Linked DNA regions of Homo sapiens. The protein of the gene in region 1 purifies or fractionates together with the protein of each later gene. This does not show direct contact. Each region holds a gene or a part of one and is shown on either strand. Other genes may lie near its edges. The genes, in order: ZC3H11A, MKRN2 and THOC2.

Region 1 (7,613 bases):
ATGAAATCCAAGAAGCACTGAGTCGCAGTTATGGCGGCCCAGAATTAGATGAAGACAACCTAGAAGCAGAGTTGGATACACTGGGTGATGAGCTTGTGGCTGACCAAGAGTTCTATTTAGATGAGCCAGCATCTGCACCTGCAATTCCAGAAGGTGTTCCCACTGTCACAAAAACAAGGATGGAGTTCTGGTGGATGAATTTGGATTGCCACAGATCCCTGCTTCATACATTTGCATTTAAGTACATCATGTAAAACATATTATGGGACTATGAAATACTGATCTTTCCAAATTTACCGTAACAGATACGTTTCTGTCCTTTCTTTGAAGGAAAGTTTAATTACATTGCTCTTCTATTTTTTTCCTTTGAGACTCATTGCTTGGGAAATGCTTTCTTTGTACTAAAACTTGATTCTGGCAGGGCGCGGTGGCTCACACCTGTAATCCCAGCACTTTGAAAGGCTGAGGCAGGCAGATCACAAGGTCAGAAGTTCGAGACCAGCCTGGCCAACATGGTGAAACCCCATCTCTACTAAAAATACAAAAAATTAGCCGGGTGTGGTGGCGGGCGCCTGTAGTCCTACTCTCGGGAGACTGAAGCAGGAGAATTGCTTGAACCCAGGAGGCGGAGGTCCAGTGAGCCAAGATCACCCCACAGCCTGGGCGACAGAGCAAGACTCTGTCTCAAAAAAAAAAAAAAAAATCACTACTGTATCAGAAGTGGGTATTTTGATTCTGTGGTTTCCTTAATACTACATCTTGAAATCAATAATGAATATTTCTTGATATTTGATGAATAGGACATTTATTTACTCAATTTTTTCAAAAGGAAAAAAAGGCATAAATTACAAACATATATTAAAAAGACGAGACAGGCCGGGCACAATAGCTCACGCCTGTAATCCCAGCACTTTAGGAGGCCGAGTTGGGCAGATCACCTGAGGTCAGGAGTTTGAGACCAGCCTGGCCAATATGATGAAACCCCATCTCTACTAAAAATACAAAAATCAGCCGGGCATGGTGGCATGCGCCTGTAATCTCAGCTACTTGGGAGGCTGAGACAGAAGAATCACTTGAACCTGGAAGGCAGAGGTTGCAATGAGCCAAGACAGCACCATTGCACTCCAGCCTAGGCAACGAGAGCAATACTCCATATCAAAAAAAAAAAAAAAGATGAGGCAAAAAAGAAAAAAATCCAGAACCTGCAGATTACATGCTTGCAAACTAGAAAATCTATCAACTAAAACAAATTGAAAATAATAAAAATGTAAGATCTACAAGAAGCAGTAAATTTCCTTCATACCAGCAATAATCATTCAGATGATGGCAGAGTACCACTCACAGTAAAAAGATATACAGGAAGAGACCATTCACAATAAAAAGATATACAGGAAGGGCCGGGCGTGGTGGCTCATGCTTGTAATCCTAGCACTTTGGGAGGCCGAGGCGGGCGGATCACGAGGTCAGGAGATGGAGACCATCCTGTCTAACACGGTGAAACCCCGTCTCTACTAAAAATACAAAAAAGTTAGCCAGGCGAGGTGGCGGGTGCCTGTAGTCCCAGCTACTCGGGAGGCTGAGGCAGGAGAATGGCGTGAACCCGGGAGGCGGAGTTTGCAGTGAATCGAGATCACGCCACTGCACTCCAGCCTGGGCGACAGAGCGAGACTCTGTCTCAAAAAAAAAAAAAAAAACACATATACAGGAAGAAAATGAAGAAGTATGCAAGACCCACATTAAATTAAAAACAAAACCAAAACACTATGAAACTACTAAGGCACAGAAGACCTGGATAATGAATAAATAGAGGATTAAAGAAATTACTTCTCCCCAAAAAATAATGCACACATCGAATGTAATTCAAGTCAAAATCCCAATTAGAGTTTATTACTGGAACTTGATTATAAAATCATCTAGAATCATTATTTAAAAAGGAATGGGAGGCCAGGCATGGTGGCTCACACCTGTAATCCCAACACTGGTTGGCCAAGGCAGGAAGACTGCTTGAACCCAGGAGTTTGAGAACAGCCTGGGCAACACAGAGCAACTCCATCTCTACAAAAGGTTTTAAAAAGTAGCCAGGTACAGTGGGGCACACCTGTAGTTCCAGCTACTCAGGAGGCTTCGGCAATAGGATCTCTTAAGCCCAGGGGTTTGACGTTGCAGTGAGCTATGATCATGCCACTGCACTCCAGCCTCAGTGACAGAGCACAAGACCCTGTTTCAAAACGAAACAAAATAACCCAGTGCTTTTCTCCAAGGAGATGGAATTACAGGAAGATTTCACTTTGGCTATGCTGTTTTTACCTTTTTTACAATGTACATATATTATCAAAACAAAGAAAGAAAAACTATGGGCCAGAGGCGGTGGCTCATGCCTGTAATCCCAGCACTTTGGGAGGCTGAGGCTGGTGGATCACCTGAGGTCAGGAATTCCAGACCAGCCTGGCCAAGATGGTGAAACTTCATCTCCACTAATAATACAAAAATTATCCGGTGTAGTGGTGCACATCTGTAATCCCAGCTACCCAGGAGGCTGAGGCAGGAGAACTGCTTGAACCTGGGAGGAGGAGGTTGCAGTGAGCCAAGATGGCACCATTGCACTCCAGCCTAGGGGACAAGAGTAAAACTCCGTCTCCAAAAAAGAAAAAAAGAAAAGAAAGAAAAAAATATGTTTCCATCCCAAAACTAAAAATTTGTAAACAATTATGTACAAGCAAAAATGTCTGAACAATGGCCTTTTAATTTCTTACTGATCCATGAAAATTATGCCTTAAATGACAAGAATGTTCACTCCTTTCATGCGAAAAATGCCTGCTTCCCCACTTACATTAGCTGGTTGCTCTGAACAGGAACATCTGTGTCTTCACTGAGTTCCAATCTATTACGCCTGTAGGTCGAACCAACACTCAATCCATGAATTAATAATAATGAGGCAGAAAAAAATTTCCTCCTCACATTGCCAAGAAAACCTCTCAGCCACAATTCAAACACAGCATGTGTTTTTAAAACATCTCCCAACTACTGGGAGATTAAGTCCATTCAAATAACCTTTGTCAGACTGGAGACAGCTAGGGTTAGTTATCTCCTCAAAAACAAAACAAAACAAAACAAAAAAAAAACAAAAAAAAAGAGTTCATTTAAAGATGAACTTGAGAGTTAAAGGATCATGAAAAAAAACTCCATCTTCCATAGCTGAACAATATAATTTAAAAAAAAAACAAAAAAACATCAGTTTTTCAGTAAGATCCAATTTCTGGTCTTCAAGATTTCTTCACCTATTAAGAAAAAAACAGAAACCTTCCCCCATCTTTATTATCTGTATAATAAAAGCATACTTGTATGTAAAAATATAGTGTTTTATGTATATAATATACATACAGATATATACTAACTGGCTTATACACACACACATATACACAAAAATGTATAGAAATATAACATTTGGATAAGTTTCCCCTTTTAAAATGCACTATAAAAGACTTTAGATTTGGGTTCATTATAAAAATAAAGAACTTACTCTTATACCAAAGTATCATGAAGTTATTGTTACACTAAATTTTGCCCAGCCCACAAAATAAAGACGAAGGTAAATCCTTACACATATATCATTATGTATAATATGGATGTATGTATATATATCCATCATCGTCATCAGGGAGTGTTTAACCAAAAAAGATAGAAACGTATGGTAATAGAGTAACTACAGAGTGGTGCAGCAAGCTGTAGAAGGCAGAGCAGCATTATAGCCATTCTAAACTGGCACTGTCAAAACACAGAAAGCTTTATCTAAGGGAAAATTTATTTCTTATTTTGTATCAACACCAGTATCACTGGTTTGCCATTAAATAGTGGCCCTGGAAAGGCTTGCTTACGCAGCCTAGGTCCAAATTCTTTACTACTAATGGCTACAGCTAAAGACTTTGTAAGTATACATTTACTCCAGTTAGTAAAAGGGTAAACTTTTGGAGTTGAGATTTCATTTCACAATGGCATATTTACCATTTAAGAATTTAAAAAAAAAAAAAATCAAAACCAAAAAAAACCCGATTTTGATACATAGAAATGAGTTCTAAACTTTGAAACCAGCCCAGTAACAAAGCAATTTTGATTCTTATGTAATAAATACTACATAATTTCTAGGCTAAATCTTGCCAAATACTATCCAAGACAAAACTAAAATCAAAACTTAAAAAAAAGTGGACACCTTTTACTCACACTTAATACTAGTCAATTTTCCAGGAATTTTTTGGGCAGGGAATATCCCCAAATCTAAAATGAAAAAAAGGAAAAATTGGGATCTCACATTAGTTATTCAGTCTGAAACTTTTAATAGACTTTTACTAAAAGTCATCATTTTCTGGCCTCCTACTCAATCTCAGAAACATACTTTCAGAGTAGAAAGGGATCTTAAAATGAGATCAATTCACTCATTTCACCAATGATTCCTAACACATAAAAATACCGACTGCTTAGTTTTCATTAAGAATTCAGTGGCCAAAACAACCGCACAGTTAATACAGTATAATGGGTCATTAAGTATGTTTTTAAAAAGATTACCTAAAATTACAGAAACAATCTTTGGGAAATGTCTACTGGGTTTTTCCAAGCATGTTCAAAGGGCTCTCATTACAATTCCCATTCAACCTTTTCCAATTCTTGCAAACATTTTAGTCTGTTTTTACCCATAAATTATTTGAAAGTACCTACACAATCTATTTTTATAATATTTTATAAAGGTTAAAACAGGCATTTCAAAGACTAAAAGTATATTTTCCTAATTGTTTTCTAATATTTCCCTTTTATATAAGATCCAATTCTAAAGGGTAACACTATCACACTCAACAATTTGAAATTATAAAGCTGACCAGTATGAGGAGGCAATTAGAAATTTCCAAATATAAAACAATTTCACGGGTTTTCTTTTTGCCAAGTTGTAATTAAGCATCAGGGTTTTTAAGGAAACAGAAAAACAGGGGCAGGAGGAATGCCAGCCAGTGTACTTTTTTCTCATTTCGTTGATTTCAGAGCAATAAAATTTCCCATGGTGGGGGAAGTTTTACTTAAAACCAATTACTAGTTCAATCTACCAGGAAGAAAGCCTAAGGCCTTTCAATGCTGCACTATATTTTTTTTAATTAAAAATATCTTCTCTCTCATTGGTATAAGCAAAATTTTCAAGTGCTAGCGCCACAGTTATAGCTATGAAATCTTTAATCTTCATTTTATCAAAATTATATTGCCTCTGAGGAATTTTCAGCCCTTGTGTGATTTCAGGTTTCCCCAGATGTGTTTATAAAGATAATGATTATATTTAACAACTACAGCTATTAAGATACAGTAACACAGCAAAAAGTTGCCCATTTTAAATGGAGAAAAAGAAATTAAGGCAGTATTTCTTTTTCACTGCTTTGAACAACTTCATTCTGCTCAGGATCCCAGCTCAGAACCAACGTAGAATAATCGTAGTTAACATTTTTCAAGTTCATTTTCAGAAACATCAGTTGTTCTATATTGTCAAAGTCCAGGCTCATGATCTGTTTTGGATGAAAGTGGCTATTTTTAGTAAAGATACATTCAGATTGCCAACTACACATGGGGCAACTTAGATACTGGATGGCAACCTGGGTCAAAGCCGGCCATATGCTTATCTTCCTCTGCCAGTAAATTAAAGGGTCATCACCTCCTGAGAACTCTGAATACTTCTCTTTGAAGTACTCATCCACAACTGCTACAGCAGAAGGGAACATGAAGCTTTTGCTTCCAAGGGCAACATTGTCTACAGCTGAGCTATCAACAGAACCTGAACTGGAGGTGCCTTCTTTTAGAGATGAGGTAAATGAATCAGCTCCCACTGTAACTGAGGGACAAGAAGCTTCTGAAGTTGGAATTTGGCAGATCTCTGGTGAAGATTCCATATAATTACAGACCTCTTCTGCAAGGAACTGCTTATAAGTTTCTAAATCAGCACCTTGAGGAAAAAAGTCTTCCAAACTGTTTTTAAAGCAAGGATCTAACAAAGTAGCCAAGATACAGGGCTTGGATTTAAGCATGGCACTTAGTAGGGTATCTGTTTCAAGTTTCAGAGATAAACTATCCACCAGATTGAGGGCCTGAGTAATACCTCTGACTTGAAAATCTTCTCTGAGTTTCTGCAGGGAAAGGAGTAGATGATGGATTAGGGGTAGCACCTGATTCAATCCTGCGGTCTTCACGCTCACTTTCTGGGTAGCCTCCTCAAATGGCTTAAGAATATCACAAACATAAGTCATTAGAGTCCACTGAAGGGAGGTGAGCACAACTCCACTGGCTCTACCAAGACTATGGTGAACTGAGTAGCAATGCTCCAAGAGCCATTTTAACATATAAAAAGTAGAAATCCAATGGCCAGTTTCGTCCTGCTTCAAATTCTTCCATGGAAGTTGGTGATCATTTTGGAACTCTTGCAGTATCTGACGGGCCTTGACCGAATGACTAAAATGATGACAAGTTTTCCTGGCAGCCACTAACATATTCTCAATGCTTTTGTGCTCGCAGAAAAAGTCCTGAATGACCATATTTAAACAATGCAGGAAGCATGGCACATGGGTAAAACCACCATCTTTGATTGCATGTACCACATTAGAGGAATTGTCAGAAACAATGAAGCTAGGGATAAGGAAATTTGGAGAAAGCCACAGACCAATCTGGTCATTTAATTCTTGTAAAATATTGGTTATCAAACAGTCTTTAGCCAAACCTGTAACACAAAGCACTGCCCACTTTCTAAAATCGGGGATCCTGCCATTATTGAGAAAAGACGCAGTTTCCAAAGAAACCCAGTGTACAGTCACAATAAAATAGTCAGTGGATGGGTCATGGGTCCATATGTCAACAGTCAGGTGTATCTTTTGGCTTTGAACATTCTCTAAAGTTAAGAAAATTTTTTCTCTGACACAATCATATAACTGAGGTACAGCCTTAGTGAAAAAGTAAGTCTCTGATGGCAACCTATAATCAGGGGCCACAATCTGCATGAACCTCTGAAAGGCTGGGGTTGAGAAATAGTTGTAAGGATGCATATCCTCCACAATCATTTGGATAATTGCCTGACTTATGTGACTTGAGACTGGATTTCCACAACATGTTGTTTCTCTCTCCTGCGCACGCATCAGAGTGCCTTGCTCTGCAACGGGAATAGGACTTTCAGATCTGTTTTCAACCTCTAACATAGGTTCATCTGAATCAGAGTCACTAAGGTCCTCAGCTGTTAAATCTTGGCTGCCTGTAGACTTTTCTCCATGCAAGGTATCACTCAAGAGATCACTTCTCTCAGTCTCAGCTTCATCTAATCCATTTGCAACAGCACCACTGTCTTTGTTGGCAACAGCCCAATGGATAGGATGTGTGGCTTGCAGGTGTCGTTGAAGTGTTGAAGTCCCTAAGTGGGACCCTGGCCTACCCCGGCTCACACTTCTTTTACATATATTACACACAGCTCTTGAGATGTGCTGAGGATCAGTGTAAAAAAAATTCCAAACGGCAGATGTCTTGGCTCTAGTTCCAGGAATTAAAGCATGCTTGACAATGTTACTTTTGATGAGAAATCTCCCTCTTTCTGCCCTTAGGGCATC
Region 2 (7,613 bases), on another chromosome or scaffold:
AGGATATTAACCTGCCTGGGGACTTGCTGTGTGGAGACTGCAGTGCTCCACAGGCCCTCCGGCAGCTCCAGAGCACCTCCTGGGTCACCACAGAGCTAAGCCAGGCCTGGTCACTCCTCTGGGCACTAAGCTCTGAAGCTGGGCCACTTGTCTCTGCTCAAAGTTCCCTAGGTACCCCACCAAGCCAACTCTCCCCTTCCTCCTGGCCGCAGTGCTGTCAAGGTGGCTACAGGGAAAGCAGAGGGTTTTAGCAACTGCCTAAAGCCATAGGTCTCCTTCCAGTTTTCCTGTCTCCAACCTCGGCACCAGGGAGGGCTTCTTCACGCCTTATGTGCTTTGGACCCCTTCTCTGAACAGTGTTTTTCAATGCATAAAACATGGGTCTACAGCATACAGTGACCAAACAGTTCAAAATGTTTTCCCTCTCTCTTAATTCTACCATTCTCCCCACAGACCTCTATGTTAAGAACCCTGCCCAAGGAAACTCAATCAAATGAATTCCCATTTTGCTCAAATGAACTCTGGTTTATCCAATCATAAAGGATCCCAAACTGAAGTTAAAAAAAAAAAGATACCCAAGAATCCAGAGGGCCATCTCGGAGTACAGAGGAAGGGGAAAGTCACAGAAATAAAGCCAAACAACAGAAAGGGCACGCTGCTGTCAGGGGCAGCTGGGGTGTGTGACAGCGGGAGACAAGAACAGGGAAAGGAGGCTCCTGAATCCAGTGGTTTTCCGTCTTGTCAGATGGGATGGCCGCAGGCCGGTGGTGAAGTTCTCTGAGGACGGCTTCATAGCAGCATAAAGAAAAGCCCTCTGGCCGGGTGTGGTGGCTCACACCTGTAATTCCAGCATTTTGGGAGGCCAAGGTGGGTGGATCACTTGAGGTCAGGAGTTTGAGACCAGCCTGGCCAACACAGCGAAACCCCATCTCTACTAAAAATACACAAATGAGCTGGGTGTGGTGGCTGGCACCTGTAATCCCAGCTACTCGGGAGGCTGAGGCTGAGGCAGGAGAATTGCTTGAACCCAGGAGGTGGAGGCTGCAGTGAGCCAAGATTGTGCCACTGCACTCCAGCCTGGGAGACAGAGTGAGACTTCGTCTCACTGGGGGTGGTGGCGGGGGGGTAGGGTGGGGGGAGAGAGAACAAGCTCCCTGGCCAGCTGATCTGATTTGAGCACAGGTGGCTGGAGAGCAGGTGTGTGGACGACACATCCTCCAGGCCCCTGCTTGCCTGGAGTTCTGAGCGGACTTCAAATGACCGTGAGCAGTTTGCTCTCACCAGAGCCTGCTGGACAACTCCAGAGCATCCTAGCACACTGGCTATGAACTCGATCAGGTCAAACACATTATATACTGGTCCCCCACTCTCACAAGAATATTACTCTTTTTCCTCCCCCAGGCTTATCTGGTCACCAAGGCCAAAAGCCTCCAGTTCACTCTGACTCACTCTGTGTCCTCGGCTCTCACACCCAACTGTGTTCATTCTGTTTACAAATCACTTCCCAATCTCCCCTTCCTTTGGGTTCCCACACTTGTGGAAGCCTCTGGGGCCTGCCTGCCAGGGCCACTTCCTCACTGGCCTCCCTCCCACTCCCACCAGTTTCCACCTTCAGAGCAGCACGGAGGAGCTTCCCAACCTTTTTTTTTTCTTTAAAGAGATGAGGTCTCCCTATGTCTCCCCTGGACTTAAGCAATCTGCCCTCCTCAGCCTCCCAAAGTGCTGGGATTACAGGCATAAGCCACTGCGCCTGGCCCCAACCTGTTCTTAAAGACCATGGTCACACTGGGATTCAAGTGTCCCTTAGATTCCAGTCTGTAGGTCCCACCACATCCTTCTACACACCTGTTTCAATGCCAGGAGCCACTCCCAGTGTCCCCCAGACACAAAACCTACACCCTTCTGTGCCCATGTCCTTCCATCACTTCCCCCTACAGACAGGTGCTTCCTGCTTCATGGTTCAGGCTCCCATGCTGCTTCCCCTGGCAGCCCCCGGTGGATCCAAGTGCTTTCTCTGTTGTGATAGATGGTCCCTCATGAAGAACTGGTCACCAGCAAACCTGTATCATAATTGCCCTTTTGCAGTTTCCCATGAAGTTGTCTTACTTGGCGGGGCACAGTGGCTCACACCTATAATCCTAGCACTTTGGGAAGCTGAGGTGGGTAGATCATCTGAGGCCAGGAGTTCAAGACCAGCCTGGCCAACATGGCGAAACCCCATCCCTACTAAAAAAATACAAAAATTAGCTGGGTGTCGTGGCGCACACCTGTAATCCCAGCTACTCGGGAGGCTGAGGCAGAAGAATCACTTGAACCCTGGAGGCGGAGGTTGCAGTGAGCTGAAATCATGCCACTGCCAGCCTGGGTGACAGAGCGAGACTCGAAAGAAAAAAGAAATTGTCTTACTAATCTCTACATCCCCCAGTGGTGCTTAGCTAGAAGGTACCTGACCCATAGTGAGTACTCAGTAAATGTTTGTGGATTGCAAAAAACACAGTCATTAAAGGAAAGCAAAGCAAGGAAAGATCCAAATAGCAATAACAATCTCCAGACTGCTTTTCAGCAGAGCCCCTTTCTACAGGCTGGGACCCTTTTCTACAGGCTGGGGCCCTTTTCTACAAGCTGGGACCCCTCTGCTTGCCACGCCTTGCCCTCTTGTGGACACACAGGAAGATTGTATGAGGAAAAAATGGTAAAAAAAAAAAAAAAAAAAAAATCAAGCTTTAGTAAACTAATATGCAACATAAAGGAACCATTAAAAAAGGTAATGCATAGTTTCACTTTTAGTATGACAAGTAAACGCCTGCCATACCCAACCCTCCTGCAGATAAGTCTTAACACAAATATTTCAAGAAGACCTGAAGGCACCAGAGAATGAACAAACGCAGTTAGATTCTTTGGAGGAGTAAACACAAAGAAGAATAGCAATGGCAAAGGCTAAGTTACCTTTTTTAAAAAAGGTAGCTTTTGTGGCTCACATCTGTAATCCCAGCATTTTGGGAGGCCGAGGCAGGTGGATTGCCTGAGCTCAGGAGTTCAAGACCAGCCTGGGAAACACAGTGAAACCCTGTCTCTACTAAAATACAAAAATTAGCCAGGCGTGGCGGCATGCGCCTGTAGTCCCACCTTCTTGGGAGGCTGAGGCAGAAGTGCTTGAACCTGGAAGGCGGAGGTGGCAGTGAGCTGAGACTGTGCCACTGCACTCCAGCCTGGGCTACAAAGCAAGACTCCATCTCCAAAAAAAAAAAAAAAAAAAAAAAAAGAAGTAGCTCTTATCCTGGAGCAGGCCAAAATCATAACCACATGGGGTGGCTAAAACTCCAAGGGGAAATCCAATCTTTCTGGCCTGAAGAACTAAAAGACAAGAGTTCAAGGAAATCACAGCCATTGGAAAGTGAGGAAGCAATCCCACAAAGTAAGGGGCCTGTGAAAAAGTGCTCAAAGGCTGTGTATAAACTCTGCCCAAATCTGACTAACTCCCAAACCACACAGGAATGCGACAAAGTCAGCTACGAATGCAAAACCAGAACTGAGATCTGAACTGCTACCTGGGTTTGAGTTCAAACAATTTACCTGCCTGTTAAAAACAGCAACACTTGGCCAGGCGCAGTGGCTCATGCCTGTAATCCCAGCACTTTGGGAGGCCGAGGTGGGCGGATCACCTGAGGTCAGGAGTTTGAGACCAGCCAGGCTAACATGGTGAAACCCCGTTTCTACTAAAAATACAAAAAATTGGCCAGGTGCAGTGGTGCATGCCTGTAATCCCTGCTACTCGGGAGGCTGAGGCAGGAGAATCGCTTGAACCCGAGAGGCAGAGGTTGCAGTGAGCCGAGATTGTGCCACTGCACTCCAGCCTGGGCAACAAGAGTGAAACTCCGTCTCAAAAAAAAAAAAATCATCACTTTACAGATAAACCATAACAGAATCCTAAGTCTCTCTACAATGTAATATTTACAATGTCAAGGATAAAATCTAAAATTACTAGACATACGAAGAATCAGGAAAATGTGATCCATTCTTAAAAGACAACAGAGGTCAACTTCAAGATAACAAGGATTTCAAAGTAGCTGCTACAACTATGTTCAAGGAGATGAAAAGAAAAAAAGATTGAAAAAGAATGAATATCCCCAGAGATCTATGAACAATATAAAAAAACTATCATAAACGGAAGTAGAGTCCCAGCAGGAAAAGAAAAAAACAAGACAGAAAAAAAGTTAATGAAACAATAGCTAAAATTTCGCTCATCTTGGGGAGTGACATAAGCGTAGAGAAAAACCACTCCACTCCTAGGCAAAATATCAACATGCTGACAACCAGGATAAAGAGGAACATTTGAGGCCGGGCACGGTGGCTCATGCCTGTAATCCCAGCACTTTGGGAGGCCGAGGCAGGAGGATCACTTGAGCCTAGGAGTTCAAGACCAGCCTGGGCTACATGGCGAAACCTTGTCTCTACCAAAAAAAATTAGCCAATTAGCTGGGCATGGTGGCGCACACTACTGGTGGCCCCAGCTACTCAAGAGGCTCCTGCTTGAGCCCAGGAGGCTGAGGCTGCAGTGAGCTGAGATTGCACCACTGCACTCCAGCCTGGGCAACAGAGTGAGACCCTATCTCACCGAAAAAAAAAAAAAAAAAAAAAAAACACCAAAACTAAACAGGTCCACATCACCATGTCCTTGCTCATTGCTGCATCCCAGAGCCCAGCATGGTGCCTGAGAGAAGGAAGAGAGGAAGAGGCCCCTAAGACCACACTCCTGGGAAGGAGAACGAGGACACGGGCTGACAGCAGAGCCAGGCAGGCAGCAGGGGCACGTCGAAACTCAAAAGCACTTACCCCATCCCCTGTTTGAAAGCTTCAATCAACTCGTTCTTTTTATTCTGATCTTCCACCCAATACACACTTGGAATTACAAACTCTGATATCACACGGCATTCTGGACAAGACCTGAAATAAGAATTAGATTACTAAGGGAGAAGTCATGTTACGAAGCCTGGGCACACTCTCTGCTAAACCTCTTGCTCAACTGCCTCACCACTACAGGCATTTCCTTCACCAGAAATTCCAAAAGATGAAATCACAATCATCCAAGAACCTTATTTACTATTAACAAAATAGGGTTTCCCAATGAGAACACATGGACACATGTGGGGGAACATCACACACCGGGGCCTGTCGGTGCAGGGGCAAGGGGAGGGAGAACATCAGCACAAACAGCTAATGCATGCATGGCTGAAAACCTAGGTGATGGGTTGAGAGGTGCAGAAAACCACCGTGGCACATGGATACCCATGTAACAAAGCTACACATTCTGCACATGTACCCCAGAACTTAAAGCAAAAAAAATACACACACACACACACACACACACACACACACACACACACATATATGGTTTCCTCAACAAAAAAGACAGATGAAATAACCCTCATACATTGCTGGTGAGAATGTAAAAGGGTGCAGCCACTTTGAACAGAGTCTGGCAGATTCTCCAACAGTTTAATGTAGAGTTATTATACCATAAAACCTAGCAATCCCACGCCCAGGTGTATACCCAAGAGAAATGAAAACACATGCCCACATGCTGTGTTCACAAATGTTGACAGCAGCATTATTCATAATAGTTGCAAAGTTAAAACAGCCTAAATGTCCACTAGCTGAGGAATGGATAAGGGAAATGTGCTGCGTCCATACAATGGAACATATTCCGCCAGGAGAAGGGGACTCTGGCACATGCTACAGTCGGGATGAACTCTGACAACACTATGCTCAGTGAAAGGGGCCAGGCACAAAAGGCCCCAAATTCTATGATTCCATTTATAAGAAGTGTCCAGAATAGGCAACTCTGTAGAGACAGAAAGCGGATGAGTGGTGAGTTAAATTGTGGGCTTTTATCTCAATAGAGCAGTTGTTTCACCACACGATTTTAGGCAAATTACTTGACCCCCGCACCCCAGGCCTGTTTCCTAATCTGTAACTGAGGAGGGTCTTTGAGGGAATGAGATGAGCGGACAGATGTGGAGTTCTGAACAGTAGAACGCGTGCAGTAACCTCTCCACATGCCAGCTCTTCCCCTGTCCTGCTGGAGAATTTGAGACTCCTATGTTGGCCACATTGAGCACATCCCATGTGCCAGGCATCATGCAGAATGTTTTACATGCATTATTCCACTTCATCCTCAAATAACCCTATTTTCGTTTTTGGTGGGGGGAAAAAACGAAGCTCAAAATGATTAACAGGCAACTGGGCTACAGGCAGGTACTACTGGATTTCAAACACAAGGCTAGGAGATGAAAACAGGTCAGTGCCATTTAACACCTTTTTACACAGATCATCTTTGCTGAGTTCCTCCCCAACACCCAGAAAGCTTGGTAGGAATTGTTGCCCATCTTTTATAGGAACAGGCACTTAGGCTCAGGAAGAGTAAATGACTTGCTGAAGTTCATGCAGCCAGGGGCCAGAACTCACCAGTTACTCTTGAGGGTAACGGAGGGCTTAAAAGTGGACGGAATAAAGTCTCAAATCAAACATTCTCCTAGCTCCCACAGCTAAGACCCCTGGCTGTACTTACTTAATGATTGGGTTTTCAAACTGTTTGGCACACCGCCACTGCCGGATGCAGGACAAACAGTACGTGTGATTGCAATTGGAGAGAATCCCAAATCTCCTCTCAGAAGCAGAGGCCTTCTCCAGGATCACTTCCATGCAGATACTGCACACTTTGTCCTGGCTTGCCTGGAAGGCAAAGGCCTTTTCCATCTCGTGTTCGAACGTCAACATGCAGATCTGAAGCACAGACAGGAAGGAAGGCTTTGGTTGTGGGCCACTGAGGAGTGGCAGGAGCCCTAGGAGTAGCTGCAGCCACACTGCCACAGCTGAGATCAGGAAGGAACACTGACAGCGACTGCTGTGAGCAAAGGCCCAGGCTCCCCCAAGTCAGGACACTGACATCTCCCTCAGACCACACAAAGGACTTCAAACCATCACTGGTCCAGCCCCTTGCTTTCCTAGGAGGTGACATGGTCACCACCCATTTAGGACTGAGAACACGGAGATCCAAAAAGGTTAAACTGCAGTGGAGTCAGAGTCCGTAAGGACTGCGGCCCTAGTCCCCCAGCTCCTCTGGGCACTGTTTCCCCCGACTCTGAGCCATGTCTACATCAGAGATGCTGACTCGTCCTTACCATGAGGCTTGAGGCTGGCAGCCTAGTCCTATGTAAGAAGCACCACTTCTCCCCAAGAAAATGATTCAATGAATTCATTCATTCACTAGGCATGCCCTGAATTCCTTCTATGTGCTGGCATTTGAGCAAGAGTGAGAAGACCTAGGCCCAGCCCTTGTAAGCTCAGTCTGTCCAGATCTGAGACAAGCCAACACTCACCGCAGAGACCTCACACACTTGCATAAAGAAGACAGCTCTAACCCTCTGCTTCCCTGGAAGACAATGGAGAGTGTCTCCTTGTCCGCTGCCACATGGAGTCAGTACTAATTTACCTCTTGATTATCTAGGAATACGCTGTCCATTTAAACATGCCTTAGGCCAGGTGCAGTGGCTCACACCTGTAATCCCATTACTCTGGGAGGCCATGGTAAGAGGACTGCTTGATCTCAGGAG
Region 3 (7,613 bases), on another chromosome or scaffold:
GAGCTGAACAATGAGAACACATGGACACAGGGACAGGAACATCACACACTGGTGCCTGTTGGGGGTTGGGGAGCAAGGGGAGGGAGAGCATTAGGACACATACCTAATGCACGTGGGGCTTAAAACTTAGATGACAGGTTGATAGGTGCAGCAAACCACCATGGCAAATGTATGCCTATGTAACAAACCTGCACATTCTGCACATGTATCCCAGAACTTAAAATTAAAAAAAAATGACAGTTGTAACACATGCAGTGTAACCCAAAAAGGGCTCAAATACAGACTATATAAAGAACCCCTACAAATCAGTGAAAGAAACTCAAGCAACTCAATAACAAAAAAGGCAAAAGATATGACAGAGACCTTTCACAAAAAGAAATAAGAACTCCAGTACAGGCGTGGTGGCTCACGTCTGTAATCCCAGCACTTTGGGAGGCCAAGGCGGGCGGATCATCGGAGGTCCGGAGTTCAAGACCAGCCTGCCCAACATGGTGAAACCCTGTCTCTACTAAAAACACAAAAATTAGCCAGGTGTGGTGGCACACACCTGTAATCCCAGCTACTCAGGAGGCTGAGGCACAAGAATCGCTTGAACTCGGGAGGCAGAGGTTGCAGTGAGCCAAGATCACGCCACCACCGCACTCCAAACTAGGCGACAGAGCAAGACTCTGTCTCAAACAAACAAAAAAAAAGAAGTACTCCAAATGACCAATAACATATAAAAAGATGCTCATGGAAATATAAGCCACAGTAAAATTACATACATATTTACAAAAAATTTAAGTCTGACAATATCAAACATAGTGACAATGTGAAACAAGGTCAACTCATACACTGCTGGTGGGAGTGTACACTGAAATAGCCTGGCAATATCTAACAGAGCTAAAGTGTAACCTATAACCCAGAGATTCTACACCTAGTATATACTCCACAAAAACACATGCTTGTATACACCAAAACTGTTGTATAATAATGTTTCTATTGGCACTGTTAGTAATAGCCAAAAACTAGACGCAACAAAAATGTTTAACAAGACAGCATAAAAATAAACAAATACTGGTATACGATGGAGTATCTTGCAACTATGAAAATGAATGAACTAAAAAAAAAAGGAAAATCAATGAACTGCAAACATACAATATGGATGAATCTTAAAAGTCATAACTGTTGAACAAAAGCAGCCAGAAACAGTAGGATAAATATTCAATGATTTCATTTATATGAAGTTCAAGAAAAAAATTAAACATATTGGGTAATGACACTGCAAAGAAAATCAAGAAAGTTTCTTTGAGTTGAAGATGCAAGGTTAAAAAAAGAGAAAAATCAAGAGGAAAACCATAAATGTCAGGATAATGTTTACTACATGAGAGGTGGGAAAGGTTTGATCGGGAACAAACAGTATGTTGCCTTGACCTGGGTGTAAGTTACATGGGGGTGCATCTTACAGTGATTATTTTAAGCTCTATATTGAGGTTTCATGACTTCTCTGTATTTTCATTACATTTCACAATTTAGAAAAAAATTCTTCCATGTTGCACAAGGCTTTAAAGAGAGCCAATGAATTCATATAGAAGAGTTTCTTACTCTTTTATATCTAGTAATCCTTTTTCTAGTCAATGAAACAAATAATTTTAAGACTTACAGAACCTGCTTATATATCACATCTAAGGCTAAATAAGATGCCAGATTACAATCATCCACAGAGAGATTATCTACTTTGCAGATTATACATAACCTTGCAGCTCACCTCTGTGCCTTCTGATTATGTCAATACCCTATCATCAGGATGAGCAGGGTAAGGTTATTAAAAGTCAACAGAGTAAACTTTTGCTGGTCAACAATTCACTTCTAGGTTTCACAAATATGTTCAAAACCAAAAAATAAAAAGGCAATGGAAGCCGGGCACTGTAGCTCACACCTGTAGTCCCAGAACTCTGGGAGGCTAAGGTGGGTGGATCAGTTGAGGTCAAGAGTTTGAGACCAGCCTGGCCAACATGATGAAACCTCGTCTCCACTAAAAATACAAAAATTAGCTGGACGCAGTGGTGCGCACCTGTAATCCCAGCTACTCTACAGGCTGAGGCAGGAGAATCGCATGAACCCAGGAGGCAGAGGTTGCAGTGAGCCAAGACTGCATCACCGCACTCCAACCTGGGCAACAGAGCGAGACTCTGTCTCAGAAAAAATAAAAATAAAAAATAAGGGCAATGGAGAGCATCTACTAAATTAAATATTTAGTTTGAAAATGTCAGGCCAGGCATAGTAGCTCACGTCTGTAATCCCAGCACTTTGGGAGGCCAAGGTGGGTGAATCACTTGAGCTCAGGAGTTCGAGACCAGCCTGGTAATATCACCTGAGCTCAGGAGTTCAAGACCAGCCTCGTAACGTGGTGAAACCCTGTCTCTACCAAAAACACAAACAATTAGCAGAGCATGGTAGCACGCGCCTGTGGGCCCAGCTACTCAGGAGGCTGAGGTGGGAGGATCGCCAGAGCCCAGGAAGTTGAGACTGCAGTGAGCCAAGATCACACCAGTGAGCCATGATCGCACCACTGCACTCCAGCCTGCACTCCAGGGTGACAGAGCAAGATCCCATCTCAAAAACAAAAACAAAGAAAGAAAATGTCATTTAGCTATTAAACATTTCTCACTAAAAAAATTATTCTGAGAGTACCTTACAAATGGTAAGCTGGTTTAAGTTTGATCCCAAGTACTTTCAACTACTTCCCTGGAGAACTAGACAGGCCTTCTAATGGGTTGAGAAGAGAACAGTGGTTGGTTAAGAACACTGGTTAAAGTTGGATATGCTGGCTCATGCCTGTAATCCCAACACTTTGGGAGGCCGAAGTGGGAGGATCACTTGAGCACAGGAGTACAAGACCAGCCTAGCCAGCCTAGCCAACAAGTGAGACCCCATCTCTACAAAAAAAAAAAAAAAATAGAAAAAAAAAGTAGCCAAGTGTGGTGGCACATGCCTATAATCCCAGCTACTTGGGAGGTTGAGCTGGGAGGATCACTTGAGCCTGCAGGTCGAGGCTGCAGTGAGTGGTGATCGTAGTACCACTGCACTCCAGCCTGGGCAGCCTGGGGAACAGAGTGAGACCCTATCTCAAAAAAAAAAAAAAAAAAAAAACCACGATTAAGCTTCTAATTTCACAAAATACGTTAAACCTAACATAAGTTTATCTGGAATATAAAACAAAATCAATCTTCCTTCCACCAGGCAACACAGAAATAACATCTGCTTCAGACTAGCATCAGAAGATATAACCTAAAAATGCCATCTAGGTCTTTTGTGGAGAGGAGATATATAAGTATATCAAGGTTGCTTCAATATTTACTATGAAGTATTAAAACAATTCCCTCTTTGGGTTCTCATTTCCCTTATAGGGTCAATTCTCTTTAGAATATAATAGCAGGGGCCAGGCACCGTGGCTCACACCTATAATCCCAGCACTTTTAAGAGGCCGAGGAGGGCAGATTACTTGAGGTCAAGAGTTTGAGACTAGCCTAGCCAATATGGTGAAACCCCGTCTCTACTAAAACTACAAAAATTAGCCGGGCTTGGTGGCCAATGCCTGTAATCCCAGCTACTCAGGAAGCTGAGGCAGGAGAATCACCTGAACCCAGGAAGCGGAGGTTGTAGTGGGTCGAGATCGCACCACTGCACTCCAGCCTGGGCGACAGAGTGAGACTCTGTCTCAAAAAAAATAATAATAATAATAGCAGGAAGCACCATGTCTTTGAAAGAAGAATTTAACAGAATAAAGTAACTCATCTTTCCCTTTGTACTCGGGCTACTAAAATGCAATTTCAAATATTCCTTCATATAGAAAAAGAGAAAAAAGAAAAAGAGGAAAGGAAAAGGAAAGGATGAGAAAGAAAGAGAAATAAAATAATTGTTTAAAATTCCTCCTTATTCACTTGAGCCCAGGAGGTCAAGGCTGCAGTGAGCCAAGATCGTGCCACTGCACTCCAGCCTGGGCAACAGAGTGAGACCCTGTCTCAAAAAAAAAAAAAAAAAACTTCTCCTTATAACAATGCACTTGCTTCCTCACATTTTCAATAGTTTCATTTCTATTTAACAATCTTAATGCATGTCTTTTGCAAAAAGCCTTCCAATGGTTGCGGGGAAGAGGTTGCATCAGTGTTGCAAACTCCTACCTAGACTAATGGTACAGTCATCATTACATAACTTTAAGAAATAATTGAAATATAATTCTATATTGTCAGTCACCAGGCTACAAACATGTTCATTAGGACACAGATGACAATGTCATCATGAACTATTAGTTAGAATCTCAAAGATTTGCTCAAGTTGCATATGGAACCATTGAAAGGTTATTACAATAAGGCAATTTGTTTGCATAATAGATACTTACATTTCCCTAGTATAAAAGAGGTATTCCTTTGGCTGGGCGTAGTGGCTCATGCCTGTAATCCCAGCACTTTGGGAGGCTGAGGGGGGAGGATCACTTGAAGCCAGGAGTTTATGACCAGCCTGGGCAATATAGCAAAACCCCATCCCTACTCATACACCCGCACAAAAAAATGTTTTTAATTAGCCAGGCATGGTGGCATGCACCTGTAGCCCTAGCAATTCAGGAGGCTGAGGCAGGAAAATCCCTTGAGCCTGGTGGGGTCAAGCCTGCAGTGAGCCGTGATCGCCTGCACTCCAGCCTAGGTGACAAAGCAAGACCCTGTCTCAAAAAAAACTTAGTTAAAAATAAATTTTTTAATAAAAAAAAAACAGGTATTCCTTAGTTATAACAAGAAACTAAAAACAAACACTGAGATTTTTCCCCAACAAGTAGATGTATCTGTGCTCTTCTCCCTAAGTAATTCACTAATAGAAGTCCACCAAGGATTCTTAAAGAAACTGTTTCTGAACATTACATTTGTCTTACTATACACCTGCCTAATGGTTTTAGGTCACTAACCTAAATTATAGGGAGAGGAAAAAACAAAACTACCTCTAATAGTTGCCCACTTTAATATCGCTTAAAAATAATCAAATTTTCTGTCTCAGTCCAAATTGAAATTATTTTAATCCCTTAATAACTTTCAAATACTTGAGTTTACCATTTTTCCACTTTTTAATTTAATTTTTTAAAAATAAAAATAGAGATAGGTTCTCGCTATGTCGCCCAGAGCTCTCCTGGGCTCAGGCAATCCTTCCTCCTGCCTCAGTTGCCCAAGTAGCTGGGATTACAGGTGTGTGCCACAGTGCACACCACCTTACATGCCACCACGCCAGGCATTCATTTTTTCTACTTTTAAAATAGTTTAGTGCTATTATGGAGATGCTGTCTCAGGTCCCTGAGAATGAGGACAGAATCTACTTTCTGTCAAAAGATGTATGGAAAACTGAATAAAATGTCTGAAGTTCCTTCAAGGACTTAAAAGGTATTTTGTGAATACTTCTTAACATGAGTATACGGCTTTTCATCTTACTTGTTCCCATTTTCCAGTAAAAAGGAAACAGAGTCACAAGCTTAAACTACTTGATTATGCTCACATCTCAAATGTGGCTTTCATATATAGAAGGCTGATGTTCATTTACGCTTCACTTAATTCTTTAAAACAAGACAACAAAAAGGTTAAATGTAGTTAAATAAAGTGCTACCTCTATTATCATTTGTAGAACAGAAACATAACCCACAAAAATGAATACTGGGACAACACAGTTTTATCTTGTAGAAACATGCATTTAAAAGAAAAGGAAACAGGAAATGTTAAAAAAAAAAAAGACAACAGGAGTTGCCGCACTTACAGTAGGAAAAAAGCACAAGTATATTGACAGCACTCACCCTACCTAAACGTTAGAGCATTACAGAATAATTTTTTTTAACAAACAAAGTAGTAGCCTATACAACCTCCTGACATTGCTTCAACATTTTGTGAAGAATGTTTCTCTTCCCAGGAAAACAGACTAAGACTTATACTTAGCTTATGAATACAGGTCGAAATGGGAAATTAAATGCTAAATGAAAACTGAGACATCAAGAAAAGGTTTCAGATAAAGCTTTGGCTGAATTTGGAGCAACTTTGCGAGGAAAAAAGACTCAACCACCAAGACTAAAATTTCTTAGAATGATTATATCCCTTTACCTGGAATCCTCCAAGAAATTCAGATCAGATGGCATGTTCTGAACAACCAAATATACTTAAATAAGTTCTAGAATGTCTAAAATCATGTAGTAGCAGAAGAAGAAAAAGAACAACAATCAAAACATTTGGCAATTAAATTTTAAAACTTTATTGTAACTACCATTAATAAGGTAAGACCTAACAAAACTTTCTAATTGATACCTAAATAAGCTATTCAAACAAACAGATGATATTCAACAAACGTAAGTATTTCAAAATTAGACTAAGTATTAACATGAGGCTAGCATCTTCAGATTAAGAGCTTCGAATATCAATTCTCCATTAAGGTTGCCTGTAACAAAGAAATGCTGAGTTCACTGTGTTAATGATTTCTACCAAAAACAGAATTCTACACTGGATCTACCAGTACATGCAAGTTTATTAGCTTCATCATGGCAAGTTCTACGTCAATATAAAATAATCAAGAAACTAAAACTAATTCCAAAATTAAGTGATTAAATACATATCTTTCAGAATTTGGAAGAGTTTGCATTTAGATATAAGTATTATTGGAAATTACAATTACATTTTGGTAGTCCTCCTTTGCCCTTCTGATCCCTCTTTAAGATCACTTTAAAGGTCACTCTTTAAGAGTTCTATAATTTAGCATTAAAAACATAATTGGTATCTCTGGAAACATAATGGGATATCTAGATATGTGATGGATGGACCATTCAGATAGGCAAAATACAGTTTTACTTTTCTCTCTAATTACCTAATAAAACATTCTTCAAAGTCAAGACCTTCCATTTAATAGACAGTTGTTTTTCATGGCGTACAGTTAAGAATTTGCCCTATCTGAAAGTTATAAAATGCCCCATACATCTCTTATGTTGCTTTCAACACTAGCTGACTACCACCCCCAGAAAAGATTTATGCTGGTAAGAAGTGACAGACAAGAAATGAATTAACAACCTCATGAAATATATCACATTATTTTTAAAAAGATAATTTTCAGTCAAGTTAAAGCTTATCTGCTAATTTATCTTGTTAAAAAGGAAAAATTCACCCAAGGTATAATTTTAAATATTGGTCATATTCTAAACGCCAAATCTATAGCTTCACTAATAATGTGGTGGCACACTACCTTCATTTTTAACATTTCCAGTTGCTGTTTTATATTTCAGAAGCTGTTTTCAGACAAAGGAAAAAGGTTTTTTGTAATATATTTGCACCACCACGTATTCTGCCTAGTAATATGAAAATGCTAACACCTATCTTTAGGAAGACACAAAAACTCCAAAGACATGCTATATGCAACAAAGTTTCATAGAGGGAAAACAGGTCAAATAAACTGAAACTAAGTACTGGATGGTGATGTGTTTAACTATTTAAAATAGCTTATTATGTTACACAATTTTAAATTCTCTTCCTGTAACAGAATGCAATCATAAAACTGACTATACTGATTTGGATCTACTATAATTCAATCCACATTCCACAAGTCATGCAATAACTACATAC

What was found.
Region 2: the proteins of ZC3H11A (region 1) and MKRN2 purify together in Homo sapiens (affinity purification with mass spectrometry; 2 studies listed by BioGRID and IntAct, with this or other methods). This does not show direct contact.
Region 3: the proteins of ZC3H11A (region 1) and THOC2 purify together in Homo sapiens (affinity purification with mass spectrometry; 2 studies listed by BioGRID and IntAct, with this or other methods). This does not show direct contact.

The regions. Positions count from the first base shown.
Region 1 is NC_000001.11:203,798,234-203,805,846, reverse strand, and holds part of ZC3H11A (zinc finger CCCH domain-containing protein 11A), read right to left. Parts: coding exon of another isoform or gene 5,385-7,613; exon of another isoform or gene 4,273-5,384; 5' UTR 3,754-4,272; coding exon of another isoform or gene 3,655-3,753; 5' UTR 2,831-3,654; intron 1-2,830. Other genes in the region: uncharacterized LOC128031836, read right to left, coding at 3,655-3,753; ZBED6 (zinc finger BED domain-containing protein 6), read right to left, coding at 5,385-7,613. UniProt on the Homo sapiens protein: Through its association with TREX complex components, may participate in the export and post-transcriptional coordination of selected mRNA transcripts, including those required to maintain the metabolic processes in embryonic cells.
Region 2 is NC_000003.12:12,573,962-12,581,574, reverse strand, and holds part of MKRN2 (E3 ubiquitin-protein ligase makorin-2), read right to left. Parts: intron 6,784-7,613; coding exon 6,569-6,783; intron 4,945-6,568; coding exon 4,834-4,944; intron 1-4,833. UniProt on the Homo sapiens protein: E3 ubiquitin ligase catalyzing the covalent attachment of ubiquitin moieties onto substrate proteins.
Region 3 is NC_000023.11:123,722,507-123,730,119, forward strand, and holds part of THOC2 (THO complex subunit 2), read right to left. Parts: intron 1-7,613. UniProt on the Homo sapiens protein: Component of the THO subcomplex of the TREX complex which is thought to couple mRNA transcription, processing and nuclear export, and which specifically associates with spliced mRNA and not with unspliced pre-mRNA.